Regions from separate parts of the Homo sapiens genome. Here region 2 is linked to region 1. A link means that fine-mapping ties the variant in region 1 to the expression of a gene that starts in the linked region. Tissue or cell type: whole blood. Region 1 holds a variant in brackets; the other region holds the start of a gene. All regions are shown on one strand. Distances are from middle to middle.

What was found. PIP is the estimated chance that this variant, and not a neighbour inherited with it, causes the effect.
Region 2: H2BC21 starts here. The variant in region 1 is fine-mapped to the expression of H2BC21 in whole blood (TOPMed, PIP above 0.99).

Annotation. Positions count from the first base shown.
Region 1 is chr1:149,983,068-149,987,331 of GRCh38, reverse strand. All of the region lies in intron 1 of OTUD7B (OTU deubiquitinase 7B), which reads left to right. Among named protein-coding and RNA genes, the nearest start is that of OTUD7B, 26 kb to the left of the region's middle. The variant G/A (reference allele first, on the strand shown) is at 2,342.
Region 2 is chr1:149,884,976-149,888,975 of GRCh38, reverse strand. H2BC21 (H2B clustered histone 21) reads left to right here and starts at 2,294. Exons shown (of 1, transcript NM_003528.3): 1 at 2,294-4,000. The coding sequence starts at 2,336. The coding sequence ends at 2,716. It overlaps H2AC20 (H2A clustered histone 20), which reads right to left and starts at 2,058. Exons shown (of 1, transcript NM_003517.3): 1 at 1,565-2,058. The coding sequence starts at 2,001. The coding sequence ends at 1,612. It overlaps H2AC21 (H2A clustered histone 21), which reads left to right and starts at 1,011. Exons shown (of 1, transcript NM_175065.3): 1 at 1,011-1,507. The coding sequence starts at 1,060. The coding sequence ends at 1,452. RefSeq lists enhancers at 201-320, 123-717, 941-1,230, 1,251-1,390, 1,801-1,860 and 6 more.

The DNA of each region.
Region 1 (4,264 bases):
GTTGAAGCAGTGAGGGTGGACTTCCACATGGTGGACTGCCCGTGTTTTCTTAGTCCTCCTCCCTGGACAAAATGTGGCATTGTATGTGAGCGTATGTTCTCTGGAGTCAGCTGGGCTGGGTTGATAAAAATCCTGGGTCTGCCACTTTTACCTGTGTTGCCTTGGGCATATTACCTAACCTCTGTGAGCTTTAGTATCTTCATCTGTGATGTGGAGTAACAATACCAAGTTCTCAGAGTTGTTTGGAAGTTTAAATGAAATAATATCTAAAGCTTTAAAACATATTACTTTCTTTCTCTTCTTACTTTGAGACTCATCTTGTTACTTCTGGATTGTAACATTTAGTGTTATATAGATCCCTTTAGAGTAGGATTGGTCTGGATTCAGGACTAGATCCACAGATAAAAGAAAAAAGAAAAAATATAGTAAAATTGGTCATATTTTCTAAGAAGGTTATATTTTGTTTCTTTGACTTGAAGGACCCATATTAACTAAAAACAAATTGCCAAGACAATTATTCATCTCTCCCTCCCACCTAATCAAGAATTATGTGAAAGTTCTAAGTGCCTCTGTCCCTCCTCTTTCTCTCTGTCTGGATTCCTTGGGACTGACATCATAGACATGGAGGAGTCTCTGACTTTTTAAAGTTTTTGACAGTCTTGAATGTTGTGGTTTTCCAGTGAGTTATGGGAAGAGTTGGAGAGGACTCAAATGCAGCTCTAATGCTTCAGTGGAATCAGGAGACGGTTAGAGAGTGAAACTCTGGAAGCTTTGGGGGATGTTGTAAATGAGAGAATGTACGGTCAGTAGTTTCTCTGGCATTTTAATAGAGGGTTATTATCCATGGTCTTTAATTTTGGGTCATTTTTCTCTGTTATTAAGTAAGTTGGACACTTGGAATATGCAGACTGATTTTAATATTACTCTGAGCTAAACAATGTTTAGGAAGAGAAATTTGTTGCAAATAAAGTCGTATAACAATCTTAAACATATGTCTTTGAGATGAGTTACTGTTTTAGACTTGTCTGTGTACAACACTGATAGACTATCAACAGTACTGTGTGTGTGTGTGTGTGTGTGTGTGTGTGTGTGTGATGGGGTACCATACAAATATACTTCAGTTCATCTGAACAAAAATTGCCTGCTGTGCTTGGATGCTGGGGAATATTGGATGAACAAGCCAAGATTCCTGCCCTCAAATTGTTCCTGGTTTAGTGGGGAGACAAACATGTAAATAAACACAACTACCATGCAGGGTGATAAACATTATGGTAGAAGTAGCATACAGGGTGCAGTGGGGGCACCAAGAAAGAAGTGGGCAATTTAGGAAGTCAGAGAACTTTTGCAAATGAGGTAGTACTTAAGTTAGTTTTAAAGAAGAGGTGAGAATTCACCTGCTACACCTAGGAGTTACTCCAGTTAGAGGGAACAATATGTGCAAAGGGACTGAGATTTGAAGCACATAGTACACTTCGGGAACTCCCAGTACAAGGAAGGGAATAATGGGAGGTAGAAAAGGCTGGAGAATTAGGTAGAGCCAGATCATGAAGGGCCTTGTTTGTCCTGTATAGATTTTTTTTTTTTTCATACAGGGTCTCACTGTGTCCCTCAGGCTGAGTGCAGTGGTGCCATCATGGCTGACTGCAGCATCAACCTTCTGTGCTCAAGTGATCCTCCCACCTCAGCCTCCTGAGTAGCTGGGACTACAGGAGTGCACCTCCACACCCGACTAATTAAATTAATTAATTAATTTTTTTGTAGAGATGGGTTCTTGCTACATTGCTCAGGCTGGTCTTAAACTCCAGGACTCAAGTGATCCTTCCTCCGTGGTCTCCCAAAGTGCTAAGATTATAGGTGCAAGCCACCAGGCGTGAGCCAGCATGCCCGACCCTGTATAGGAATTTGTTTTTTTGTTTGTTTATTTTGAGATGGGGTCTCGCTCTGTCGCCCAAGCTGGAGTGCAGTCGCATGATCCTGGCTCACTCAACCTCCACCTCCCAGGTTCAAGTGATTCTCCTGCCTCAGCCTCCCGAGTAGCTGGGATAAAAGGCACACACCACCACGCCTGGCTAATTTTTCTATTTTCAGCAGAGATGGGGTTTCACCATGTTGGCTAGGCTGGTCTTGAACTTTTGACCTTAAGTGATCTGCCCGCCTCGGCCTCCCAAAGTGCTGGGATTACAGGTATGAGCCACTGTGCCTGGCCTCTGTATAGGAATTTGAGTCTTAGGCTTTAGCCATTGAAAATCCATTGAAGAATTTAGAACAGTGGGATGTAATACTATAATACTGGCATTTTAAATTGCTCATAGTGGTTGCCTGTGGAGGCCAATCAATTGAC[G/A]GAGAGAGGTAGAGGGAGGAGTTAGGGAGCTATTTCCTGGGGTGCAGGTTATGAAAACCTGAGATAGAATAAAAGAGCTGTAGCCTGTGGAAGGTTTTGCAGGGATTTGAGAGATATTTAAGGTAAAATTAGTAAAACTTAGTGAAAGATTATTTGTGTGGATAAGGCAAGAGAGAAGTCCAGGGCGGCTCCCTGGCTTGTGACTTGGATGATTGGGGACTATTTGCTACAATAGGCAGTACTGGAAGAGGAATAGTTTGAAAGGATGGGAGACAGAGATGAGAGAATAAGCTCATGTTTTTATATACTGAATTTTAAGTGCCTGTATGATTCCCAGGTGAGGTGGAAAGAATTTGGGGGTGCAGATACATTTGGAGTCATGAACATTTGGGTGCTTAGGGCTGTGAATGAAGTTTCAATGAGAAGATGGAAGGCCTAAGGCTAGAATGGTGGGTGCACTAAGTTTGGTTCAGTCACAGAAATGGGAGTCCACAAAGACGACCAAGACACAGGGCCAGAGAAGCAGGAAGAGTGGTCAGTAAGTGTCAAATGCTACAAAGAGAGCAGAAGTAAGGATGATTGTGTTCATCTTATATATAAGCCAGTGCCATTCTCTTTCTGCAGAAGCCTATTTTTGTAGGTTGAGGACAAGGAGATTTGCAGGGAAGAGGAGAGTAACCGCCAACAAATAGGAGCAGGGGAGGAAACCTAAAGGAACCCCTCTTGCTTTGCTTTGTAATTTTTTTTTCTGTGAAGTAGGAGGCAAGGTCATTTGACAGGAGTAAGGGGAGGTGATGTGGCTTGGGTGGGAGGCTCAAGGAGCATGGTGAAGGTATGGGATAGTAGCTCAGAAGATTGATTGAGGTACTAAAGCAAAGATAGCAGTGTTTCAATAAAAGCAAGGTGGCTGAATAACATGTTAGTAGTCATATTGCTCTGCAAGGTTAGCAGGGAAGTTAGAATGTGGGATCCATCCAAGTTGGACAGATGAAATGGATAAGGAAACTAAATTTTCACAGGAAAGTAAATTAGGTGATCAATTATTGGTTTTACTTTGTTAGGTAAGAAGAGATAAAGTGGAATCTATCCATTTCCCTCAACCTTCACTGCTTTTATCCTGGTTTAGCGCTATTTTGCAAGAATTTTCTAATCAATTCTCTCCCTAAATCCACTGTGCTTCTTCCAAACTCTTCACATTGTAACCAGGGTGATCTTTTAACAATTCACATCTGATTATGTTCTACCTCTGCGTGCAACCTTTCAGTGGCTTCCCATTATATTTAAGATAAGATCTCAAATCTTTAACAGGGTCCACTAGGCCCTCTCTTCATCCTCCTGTAGCAACATTCTCATCTTTATGTTCCTTCCTGCCACGGAAGTTTAGCGCATGTTTCCTCTGCTTGGAGCGTTCTTCCTTTCCCAATTTGTCTCTCCAATTGCTGCTTAATCTTAATTAATCTTAATTCATAGATGAAACATAATTTCCTTGGGGAAGCTTTTCCTGACTCCCTATAGGAGATAACACTCCCTTCTCTAACATTGCTTTATTATAATTGTTTGTGAAAATATTTGAAAAGATTATGAAAGGCAGAAATGTTAGATGAATTGTGCAGGTGGTTGTTGAAATTGCTCAGGAAGATGGTAGGATTTTGTGGTTTTTTCCTCCATGCTGGAAGCTTTTGAGGATAGGGATTGTGTCTAGTTCACTGTTGTGTTTTTACTCATGAGCATAGTGCCTCACACAAAGGCACTCCAAATACTTCTGTTGAATTAATGAATAAGGTGGTTAAGAGACTGGATGTCTTAGTGAGCAGGCAGGTTTAAAAGTACAGAGGAGGCCGGGCGCAGTGGCTCACGCCTGTAATCCCAGCACTTTGGGAGGCCAAGGCGGGTGGATCACGAGGTCAGGAGATCGAGACCATC
Region 2 (4,000 bases), 98 kb after region 1:
ATCTGTAAGTATGCTGGTGCATTTCAGGAAAAGAGGGCAAAGAGGGGAGGTTGTTTGTATGAGTTCGCGTTCGGATAGGCTGAGGTAGAGTTTGAGTTTGAGGTGCTCGTTGGGATAAGTAGGTTGAAGTATTCTGTAAGCAGTTAGGCATAAGGGTCTGAGCTTCTGAAACAAATTTGGACGTTAGTTGAAAGCATATAAATGGGTAAGACTCTTCGGGATAAGTGAAGAATTGGAGACAGGGAAACAGTCCAGCTGGACTCGCAGATTTAGAGATGGGCAGTGGCATGGGGGAGCAGGATAAGAAAAGTCGGCGAGGTAAGAAGAAAAACAGGGCGACATTTTGAAAGCCAAGGGAGCAAGTTTGAAGGCCGCCTCCTGGAGGTCAAGAGGAGGATGACAAATCTATTCTAGCCTCGGTCAAACCGGATTCCGAGGAGTGCAGGCGGGTGGGGGTGGGGCGGAGACACGCCGCTGCGGGCGACTTAAGTTTAGGGGCGAGAAAGGAGGCAGCCTTAGTAGTACATGTATTTTTAAAGGGAATTTGGCTGTGACGAGACAGAAAGGGCGGGACTTGGCAGTTTAGAGCTCAAGGGGATCATCGGCTTCAGAATCCCCTACTCTTTCGTGAGAGTAACTCTCCGTCTAAGGATGTCTTCTGCAGTTCCTTAGGGTCCATATTGGGATTTCCCGGCTGTAAACTAAACAAAGCAAAGCAAAACAAAACAAAAACCCACAGTGCCTCTCAGTAAAACAAAACCAGTATTTTGTTTGAAAGCCTGCTCTCTTTAAAGATCCTGGCATGCAAATAAGGGGCTTTAATGTGGCTCTCAGCGATTGGTAGATACTTACAAAATCCGTCATTTCCTTTCAGTGCAGGACGCAAACCAAGAGGCGGCTTTCTGCTTTTCTATTGGCTGTTAGATACGGCTCCGCTTTTAGCCAATCAAACGACTTCCCTTCACCCCTCCCGGTAGCTCTTATAAATTACATCAAATTGGTTATTCTTTCCACATTCTTCTCCTTGTAAAAGAAGCTGTAACTGCAATTTTAGCCGTAATGTCAGGACGCGGAAAGCAGGGAGGCAAGGCCCGCGCTAAGGCCAAGTCGCGCTCGTCCCGCGCTGGTCTCCAGTTCCCGGTGGGGCGAGTGCACCGCTTGCTGCGCAAAGGCAACTACGCGGAGCGGGTCGGGGCAGGCGCCCCGGTGTACCTGGCGGCGGTCCTCGAGTACCTGACCGCGGAAATTCTGGAGCTGGCGGGCAACGCGGCTCGGGACAACAAGAAGACGCGCATCATCCCTCGCCATCTGCAACTAGCCGTGAGGAATGACGAAGAGCTCAACAAGTTACTCGGGGGTGTCACCATTGCCCAGGGCGGCGTCTTGCCCAATATCCAGGCTGTCCTGTTGCCCAAGAAAACGGAGAGTCACAAGCCTGGCAAGAACAAGTAATTAAGAGGCTTGACACCATACTCATTCACCCCAAAGGCTCTTTTAAGAGCCACCAAAGTGTCAAATGAAGGGCTGATCACGAAATAGCGCATTAGCTCTTTTTTTGAAAACTTGGGTGGCTCTAAAAAGAGCCTTTGGTCTTGGTTTGTTTGTCTGCATTTATTTGCTTTTGGCTTTGTGGCTTTCGGTTTTCTTTGGTAACAGAACGGCCTGGATGTTAGGCAAAACGCCGCCCTGGGCGATGGTGACTTTGCCCAGCAGCTTGTTCAGTTCCTCGTCGTTGCGGATGGCCAGCTGGAGGTGACGAGGGATGATGCGCGTCTTCTTGTTGTCCCGAGCCGCGTTGCCCGCCAGCTCCAGGATCTCGGCGGTCAGGTACTCGAGGACCGCCGCCATGTAGACGGGCGCGCCGGCCCCCACCCGCTCCGCGTAGTTGCCTTTGCGCAGCAAGCGGTGCACTCGCCCTACCGGGAACTGGAGGCCAGCGCGGGACGAGCGCGACTTGGCCTTGGCGCGGGCCTTGCCTCCTTGTTTGCCACGACCAGACATGACTGAAATCAAGGTTAAACACAGACAACGCTCAGAACCTCGCAACAAAATAAGATTGAAAGAGAACCAAGAGGAAAGCCTTTATAAGCTTTCCTAGGGGTGGGGTCAAGAACGAGTTTTTCATTGGTCCTAATATGGCTTCAGAACCGGCCAATCAAGTCAAGAGTCGGTGTTGTTACGTACGCATTGCTGAAAACGCAAGGTCCGCACACGGACCAATGGAAATGAACGACTTTCGGAGCCCTAATTTGCATAAGGTGGTTATAAAAGAATCAGGCCCGCCCATTCTCTTACTTCTTTTCTTGGCTAAGCCGCGTTTGTACTGTGTCTTACCATGCCTGAACCGGCAAAATCCGCTCCGGCCCCTAAAAAGGGCTCCAAGAAAGCCGTCACCAAAGCCCAGAAGAAAGACGGCAAGAAGCGCAAGCGCAGCCGCAAAGAGAGCTACTCCATCTACGTGTACAAGGTGCTGAAGCAGGTCCACCCCGACACCGGCATCTCGTCCAAGGCCATGGGCATCATGAACTCCTTCGTCAACGACATCTTCGAGCGCATCGCGGGAGAGGCTTCCCGCCTGGCGCACTACAACAAGCGCTCCACCATCACATCCCGCGAGATCCAGACGGCCGTGCGCCTGCTGCTGCCCGGCGAGCTGGCCAAGCACGCCGTGTCCGAGGGCACCAAGGCGGTCACCAAGTACACCAGCTCCAAGTGAGTCCCTGCCGGGACCTGGCGCTCGCTCGCTCGAGTCGCCGGCTGCTTGACTCCAAAGGCTCTTTTCAGAGCCACCCACCTAATCACTAGAAAAGAGCTTGTTCACTTATTCCCTTAGTTTCTTTTCATAAAGTAAGTTATTTTAGTGTGAAGGTCATGGGAAATGGCATACGTAGCTTTTTAACTATTTGGAACTCGAGGTCCCCAGTGCGTCATTGGATTTGCTTTTGAATCTAGAGCGTGTCTTTACTCATTGTGCTGCTTAGCCTTCCCAGGAGTCGGTTCTCAATTAGGCTGTTGGGAATCCGCCTCTTTACCCGCCCCCACTCCCGCCCCACACGCGCCCTGGTGGCTCCTTGGGTCTGTTTCATTCTAAAACGAAGTGGCTGAGTTCGGCTGTCATTTAAGAGAACTCCAGGACACAATTCAGCCCGGGTTCCGCAAACACTGCGTGACAGCTCTGTATGACTGACGCTTGGCAGCAGCTTTTGTGTCCGGTCACCAGTTCTGCCGTGCGATGGGGCCTCCTGTGGATACCAGCCGTTCTGTGTATTTTGGACGAAGGCCGCGCAGCCGGGTCCCAGCCTTGTCCTGATTGGGCGACAAGAATATTCAAAATTCTGCGCCTTTTTCTAATTTGTAGATTTCAGTTTCCGTCGTTCACTTTGAGACTTTGAAATTCCTATTTCTCATTTTGTTGATAATTTCTGCATTTAATGGTCTGTGCTTTAAATGGTAACGCTACGGCCCCAGGTCACTGCGAGGCACTTACCATGTAGATACGGGCTCAAAAGTCACCTCTCAGAGACCTACGTCATCCACTCAGGAATTCGCGCCTCTCATACTTGCCTGTCTCATTTTATCTTCCTTCTAGCAGCTGTCTGAAATTGGTTCGTCTGTTTTCTTGTTTATGGTATTCTCAAGCCCTTGACAGACCGGCTAGTGTGGTTTTCCCGTGCATCTTCAGCCTGGCACATTATGGACACTTAAATACTACGTATTGATCTAATATTGTTGGGTTAATTTTTCCATCCCACCCTTTTCTTAATCGCTTCCGTGGATGGATGAAGGGTGCTGTTCATTTCCATTAGATGTATGTGAAGGCACAGTGAAAATGGAAATGTTCTTGGAGCTACTTCCTCAAAATGTATCCTTAGTCACCTCAGTGCAACAGCTGGGAGGGGGCCGTGTTAAGATTTTTTTTGCTACAAAGAGGAGGTGGCAATGGTAGATCCACCCTTATGCTTCTCAGTTTAGCATAACCTCTTATGGATTTTCATCAAAT